2 linked regions of the Homo sapiens genome follow. The protein of the gene in region 1 interacts with the protein of each later gene in a biochemical or structural test. Each region holds a gene or a part of one and is shown on either strand. Other genes may lie near its edges.

Evidence for each region.
Region 2: the proteins of VEGFA (region 1) and IGFBP7 form a complex in vitro, tested with the Homo sapiens proteins (one study listed by BioGRID).

The regions. Positions count from the first base shown.
Region 1 is NC_000006.12:43,773,198-43,776,842, reverse strand, and holds part of VEGFA (vascular endothelial growth factor A, long form), read right to left. Parts: intron 2,503-3,645; coding exon 2,451-2,502; intron 1-2,450.
Region 2 is NC_000004.12:57,108,192-57,111,936, reverse strand, and holds the start of IGFBP7 (insulin-like growth factor-binding protein 7 isoform 1 precursor), read left to right. Parts: upstream 1-1,551; 5' UTR 1,552-1,585; coding exon 1,586-2,060; exon of another isoform or gene 2,061-2,175; intron 2,176-3,745. UniProt on the Homo sapiens protein: Binds IGF1 and IGF2 with a relatively low affinity. Stimulates prostacyclin (PGI2) production. Stimulates cell adhesion. Acts as a ligand for CD93 to play a role in angiogenesis.

The sequences.
Region 1 (3,645 bases):
GTAAGTAAAGGAGTCAGAATTAGCTGACATCAAAGTGTTCCCAAGCCTATATTAGGCAAAAACAGAGGAGGCACCTTTCAGGAGGAGGCACCTTTCCCCCTGCCAGTCCTCTTCCCCAGACATGAGCTGAGAAGGTGGTGGGCATCAGCACAGGGGCTGGGCCCTCCTGGAACCCACAGGTGGCAGTGGGCGGACACGCTGTGCCAGCCCTGCCAGCCACTGATAACCCCGCCCAAGAGGGCAAACTGCTTGCATCATGGAAAAAACAGTGCTGCCACTGTAGCCACGAAACATTTCTAGAAGCTGATCTGAAGGGAGACCAGGGTAGAGACAGTTTCCCAGGCTGGCCACGAAGCCTGGGGTGCACTGGAGCATGAAGGGGTAATTCTGGGCCACAGAGGCGGGGCCCTTGAGAATAAATAAATGCAGGACTCTGGCATGACTACTCCAAATTGTGGCCCAGCCTGCCACGCCTATCGCACCCCACCACCACTACCACATAGCAATCCTGTCCCTGAAATAGGTTCCCTACCCAGAGGGAAGAAATAACACCTGGCCAGTGAGGAGGCCCAGGCTCTGGCCATGAGTTGGTATGACCTTGGGCCAGTCCCTCCCCTCTCTAGGCCTCCAACTCTGCTCAACTGTGTAAGTGGGTTGGGCTGATCTCTAAAGATGCTGAAACAGGCTGAAAAAGGTGGTGTTTTGGCTTCCATTTCCAGCCCTAGGAACAAGTGCTCTTTTTTCAGCCTGGGTAATATGAAGTTTAGAACTTCACCAAAGCATCTTAAGTGTATGCTTCGTGGACTTCCACCCCAGCTCCCAACCCCCACCCCCCAGAGACCACAGCTGAGCCTCCCCCTCACTCCTCCCTCCAAGGTCTGCTTTCCAGAAGAATAAAGGACAATGAGGGGGGCTATGTACACAATAGGTTGATTGGGAAGAAGGTGGGGAGAAGGCCACAGGTGTGAAAACAGAAAGAACAGTGGGGAAACAGGCCAGTCCACTGCTTCCTGTGAGGTCTCTATTTCTTTTATCCAGACCACCAATGGGCACAGAATCCTTCTCTACCCACGAAGGGTTACGGCAAAGCATCATCAAAAAGAGTGAACGAGACTAGAAGTCTGAAAAGGTCATTTTTTAAAGCCAAGTCGATAGGGGAGAAGATGACTAATCAAGAAGTTTTGAACTGCCCCTTCATCACAATTGGGACAGAGGAGGGCCAGGCTTGTGGCCCAGGAGGGGATAGCAGGAAGGTCTGGCCTGGGCAAGGGGTTGGTAACTGAGGGTAAAAAGACCTGGGGTAGGAATTCCCCCAAAAAGCTTCCCCTTGGAATGAATCCCCAAGTCCCATGGGAGGTGGAGGCGGGGAACCTCACCCGCATCCTTCATCAGGCAGCCGCCCCTCCAAGGAGGGCTGGCCTCCACTGCCTGGGGGAGCACACACGTACACTCCAACAACCAGGCTTTCGTGGTTTTCCTTATTTATCGCAGACAACCTTTTCTCCAGCAAACAAAGACCTTTGTCCTGCCTCTCCCAGACCAGAGACCACTGGGAAGCTGGAAGGGGTAAGTGGCGCACTGGAAGCAGGGGGCCGGTCAGTGGCTGAGAAGCCAGGTCCTAGGCCAAGGAAAGGGCTCCTGGGGTGGGGAAGGAGGAGGCAGAACAGGCTGGGCATCACCACTGCTGGCCACTACCCAGCCACGCCAGATTTAGGTCAGGGAAACTCGCGGGAAGGAAGACCCCAGGGCCTTCCCTCCCCAGAGGTGGAGAGCACAGGCCACAGTCAGTGGTGGGGAGAGCCAGGGTGTCCCCAGAGAAATGGGAGGATCCAAACCACAACGGAACAAAAGGCAGGCGGACTCGGGGTTGGGCAGGGGGGCGGGGCGCCTGGGAGCTACAGCCAGCCCTCTGCTGGCCTGGGAGGGAAGTTCACAGCACCCGAACATAGTCAAATGGGGTTTTCTCCACCCCCAAAGGAATGCAAACCAGGGAAGGGAGGAGAGATCCCATTAGGCTGAGCCCTCTGTGCCTCCAGCTCACACAGGAAGGGTCACAGTTCCCACAAATGGGACATGTCTATATAGGAAATGACACTAAATGTCCACTCTCCCCTGGGAGCTAGGGGAAACAAGGGACACTTCCCCCAACACCTAGGATCCCTGAACACTGTCTTCCTGCTCTGTGCGCACGACTCCTTCTCCAAATAAAATTTTACTGGAAAGAGCAGAAGAAAAAGGCAACAAGTCCTACTTCTAGCAGAGACCTGAACAGCGGAGAGTCCTCACGAAACTGAGGGTGAACCTCGTGGTGCCCAGCTCTTTCTTTCTTGATCCTTATATTCCTGTGCCCCTTCCCCTTCCTCCCCACAGTTCTGAAGAAAAAGGAATTAGGCCATCCACCCATCCCCTGAGAGGACAGGGAACCCCATCCAACAGCCAGGGGGACTCACCTTCGTGATGATTCTGCCCTCCTCCTTCTGCCATGGGTGCAGCCTGGGACCACTGAGGACAGAAAGAGAGCAAGGCATGGGCATGGGCAGGGGCTGGGGTGCACAGGCCCAGCCACCCAGCCCCTCCTCCCTCCTCACTTCCCTCCCACCAACAGCCTCTGGCTTCTCCAAGTCTTCTGAGTCGAACAGGACACAACCGGGGGTCCCCACGGGCACAGAATATGCCCACCACTCCTGGACTGCTATGGTTATGAACCCGAGGAAGTTAAAGACTAACCAGATGTTGGGGGCTGGGGAGCTCGAAATGCAGGAGGAAAACCCCAGAATGCTTCACTGTCGAGGTCCCCTGTACCTTCCCCACACTTCCCTCTCCCTGCTCTCACTATCCCCCTAGTTCCCTGGTCCAAAGCCATGGTAAGTATTAAGGTCAAATAGGAGGACAAATTTGGACTGGGGCAGGAAGGAAGGACTAGGGGCGAGAAAAACAACATGGTGACCTTCTCCTGCTGACATGACAAATACCAGGGTGAGCTGGTGTTGGAGACGGAGGGGGGTGCCGAGGACCGAAGGGCACCAACCACCCTCCCCCATCCAAGCTCTTCTAGTCCTTAGGAATAACCCAGCATGCCCACAGGTTGCTTAGAGGGTAAAAACCCAGGAGGAGACCCTGGGGGAGAACCACATTTTCCTCTCTACACAAATCTCTCCAGAGCCTCAATAGATTTCCAAAGCCTCACCTGTCTCCCACTCCTACCTGTTCCCTGGTTTCTTCTCCCTCCCAGGGTGAGGAGGTGCCAAGCCCCTCTCACCTGGGCACCTTCAAATGCCACCAGGGACCAGGGAAGGCTTTTATGCCTTGGCACTGCCCAGCCCCTAGGGGGCCCCCTGCACCACCTTAGGCCTGAGGCCTCCTCTAACCCTCCCCACCCGCATCAGATCATTCCTCCCCTCGCCAGAAGCTGTGAAGGTCAACACGCCAAGACATGCGGACCTGACAGCACCCAAAAGGAAAGGCTTCTGCCAGCCCTTCCTGGGGGTCTCCAGCTCTCACCAACTCCCCTCCCGCCCAGCACTCGCAGAGCAGAGGGGCACTCTAGCCTACGGAACACCAGACCCTGCTAGGGGAGAGTCCCACTGTCCATCTTTCTTTCCCTCTCCTTCCCACACACCCCAAATGCACCCCACTCAGGTACCC
Region 2 (3,745 bases), on another chromosome or scaffold:
AGGCGACACAGGGAGACTTCATCTCAAAAAAATAAAAAAAAGAAAAAGAAAGAAAAGAAAAGAAAGAAAGAAAGAAATTAAATACAATAGGAAATAGAGTGCACTCTGCATTTGTTTCCTTTTCAAGAAAACAAATGGGTCATGTAAACTGCATCTCTTAGGATGGAACAAAGACAAAAATATTTAGGGAAACTCTGCTGTAAAGATTTTTCATTGTTTTTTAAACAACTGTCAGGTCAACATATGACCTTTGAGGGGAAAAAAAATGCTCCACTTGTCTATAATACACTAAGGAGAGGCCAAAAAGCAGTGCTAGGTTTTTCTGGATTGGAGGATGTTTCCCCACTCTCCACCCCCCGATTTTGTGGTCATTTAATTTTCAAAAAATTTGCAATAATTATCCTTGTAAGAGTCTGTTGAGAATGAGTTCTTTACACTGCTAATGGGATTATGAACTGAACTGCTGGCTTTCAGTCAGCAACCCTGTAAATCCCTGGATTTATGCTAAGAAAAAAGAACACAAAAGAACCACAATGTGACATGCAGAATAATGCACGCTGCAATGTTACACATTCAGTTAAAAAGTGAAAGCAACTTCCATGTCTGCATTGGAGAGGCCAGTGTTCCTGGGAAGAGAGGCTTTCAAGTTGAGTTTGCAGAGCACTTCGCAGAAAGACTGAGGAAGAGTCCACCGTTTATATCAAAAACCTCCTGGAATGCTGGTGAAGACTGGGGGCGCTTTAGGTGCCTCCGTGGCAGCTCCAACGAGGAAGGAGCTGGGACCCCTGCTCCTCTCAGCTGCGCTCTGTTCTCCCGAGAGGCTTGCTGGAGGGCGAGCAGTTCAGCAAGAACTCAAAACAAGGGCACAGCTCTCACACGGATTCCAGTACTCACTGAAAACGGCTCAGCACAAAAAAAGCACAGAGTCTTGTTGAATGCCACTGGGAGACAAAGCGGGGAGGGAGGTGCAGGCAGTTAAGAGGTTCCAGAAAGGGAAGTGGTTGGCAACGGTTTGTCCTTTTAGTGCTTGACACCCAAGACCACAGCAGGCCTGTGGCCAGCGGGGACACAGTCCACAAGTGGGGGTTTTTAACAGCTTGTTCTTAAGAGAGCTTCCCAAACCACAGAGTAATGAGCACTCAGGTGTCTCAGGCCCACGGAGGATTTAATAGATGAAACCCTGGATCGTCTCGAAGCCGTGGTTGTTAAGAAGTTTAAATATATTGACCGGAAACGGGGAGAAACCAGAGGGTGGAAGAGCCGCTCGCACTGCGGTGCGATCCCTGAGGGCTCGGGGCAGGGGACTGGGGACCGAGCAGGAGCTGGCGGGGTGAGCTCTGCGAAGCGGGCGTGAGACCGAGCGCCCATGGGCCGGTCACGCCGGGTGCCCGCTCACCCCCCGACGCCAGCAGGAGCGCGCGCGCAGGCCCCGCGGGGCCGGGAGGGCGGCACGGGCGGGGCCCCCGTGCTCTCACCGCCCCGGGGTGTGGTTCCCGCGGACAGGCCGGGCGGGGCGGCGGGTTTAAGGCGCCGGCCGGCCCGACACGGCTCACTCGCGCCCTTGCCGCTGCCACCGCACCCCGCCATGGAGCGGCCGTCGCTGCGCGCCCTGCTCCTCGGCGCCGCTGGGCTGCTGCTCCTGCTCCTGCCCCTCTCCTCTTCCTCCTCTTCGGACACCTGCGGCCCCTGCGAGCCGGCCTCCTGCCCGCCCCTGCCCCCGCTGGGCTGCCTGCTGGGCGAGACCCGCGACGCGTGCGGCTGCTGCCCTATGTGCGCCCGCGGCGAGGGCGAGCCGTGCGGGGGTGGCGGCGCCGGCAGGGGGTACTGCGCGCCGGGCATGGAGTGCGTGAAGAGCCGCAAGAGGCGGAAGGGTAAAGCCGGGGCAGCAGCCGGCGGTCCGGGTGTAAGCGGCGTGTGCGTGTGCAAGAGCCGCTACCCGGTGTGCGGCAGCGACGGCACCACCTACCCGAGCGGCTGCCAGCTGCGCGCCGCCAGCCAGAGGGCCGAGAGCCGCGGGGAGAAGGCCATCACCCAGGTCAGCAAGGGCACCTGCGAGCAAGGTGGGCACGAGCGCTTCCCTCTCCAACCCTGCGCCGCTCGGCCCAGCGAAGGGCACATCCGACGGGGCGTCCGCGGCGGCCTCGCCCCGCGCTGCTCACTGCGATTCCCCCGCGGGCATCCCAGGAGCCAGATGGGAGGGAAAGAGTTGGCAGCCGCGGAATGCCAGGAGCGGTGGGCGACGCCCCCCCTTCTCCTTTTTGGTGGTTTTATTTTGAGAGTTTGCTGCGTGCGTCCAGAAAGTGAGGGCCGGGTGTATATGTAGAAAAGATTTTCCGAGACCTCAGACTTCCCCATGCCCAAAGCGCACCCAACTCGTGCTAACATCTGTCCATTTCTCATCATTCTTGGCTTGGGGATGTAGAGAGAGGTGAAGTCAAGAGATGGGGGAAAGGAGTTTGACAATTAAATATAAAGTAAGGACTTCCAGACAGACTTTTTTTTTTAAAAGATAGGATCTTGCTCTGTCGCCCAGGGTGGAGGGCAGTGGCACGATCTTGGCCCACTGCAACCTCTGCCTCAAGCGATCCTCCTGCCTCAGCCTCCCAAGTAGCTGGGACTATAAGCCTGTGCCACCACGCCTGGCCAATTTTTGGTTTTTTGTTTTGTTTTGTTTTGTTTTATAGCGACGGAGTTTCACTATGTTGCCTAGGCTGGTCTCGAACTCCTGAGCTCAAGTAATCCCGGCCTGCTGGGATTACAGGCATAAACCACCGTGCACAGCCCTGATTTCTTAGTATTGAAGAAAATAGTCCACTTTCTAAAAATTATAGGTTCTCAAACAGTAATCTAACTAGCTAATTATTTGTGGGCAAAAATAAAATACAAACTCTTTGAAGACTGTTTTTGTGATGCACTTTGTTGTCAACCTTCTGACCATTTTGTTTTTCCTTCCTATTTCTTTGATTTGTATTGTTTTGCATAATTTGTCCCCAGGATACACTGTTCAGCAGAAATGTCTTTGAGATTATGTTTGATTGTTTATTTTATTCCAAACAAGTCCAAGCTTGCTGTAAATGAAATAAGGAAATAGGCCGGGTGGGTTGGCTCACGTCTGTAATCCCAGCACTTTGGGAGGCCAAGATGGGCAGATCACGAGGTCAGGAGTTCGAGATCAGCCTGACCAACACGGTGAAACCCCATCTCTAATAAAAAATATATATATATACATTAGCTGGGCATGGTGGTGCATGCCTGTAATCACAGCTACTCAGGAGGCTGAGGCAGGAGAATCGCTTGAATCTGGGAGGCGGAGGTTGCAGTGAGCCGAGATCACATGACAGCACTCCAGCCTGGGTGACAGACAGAGACCCCATCTCAAAAAAAAAAGAAAGAAAGAAGAAAATAAAGTCTGGACTTGCAAATACACGCACATACACACACACATAGAAATTTTAACTCTAATGCCTGAAATAACATTTTCCATTGGCAGTATTTTCAAGGGAAAGTCAGACATTCAATGTTGGCAGCTCCTGATCTTAGCCAAGGTAGAAAAGGGAGAGGAGGCAGTTCTGAGGTTACAGAAGCTGTTGCTTCTTTAACACAGTTCAGACTTTCTCCAGAATTTCCAAATTCTTTCTTTAGAGCTTTTCCCAGAAGTCCACAAACTAATAGGTTGTATGTCATCAATTTCAGAGTTCACTATTGAAAGCCTTAAATTGTGTAACTCACTAGTAACTATTTATAG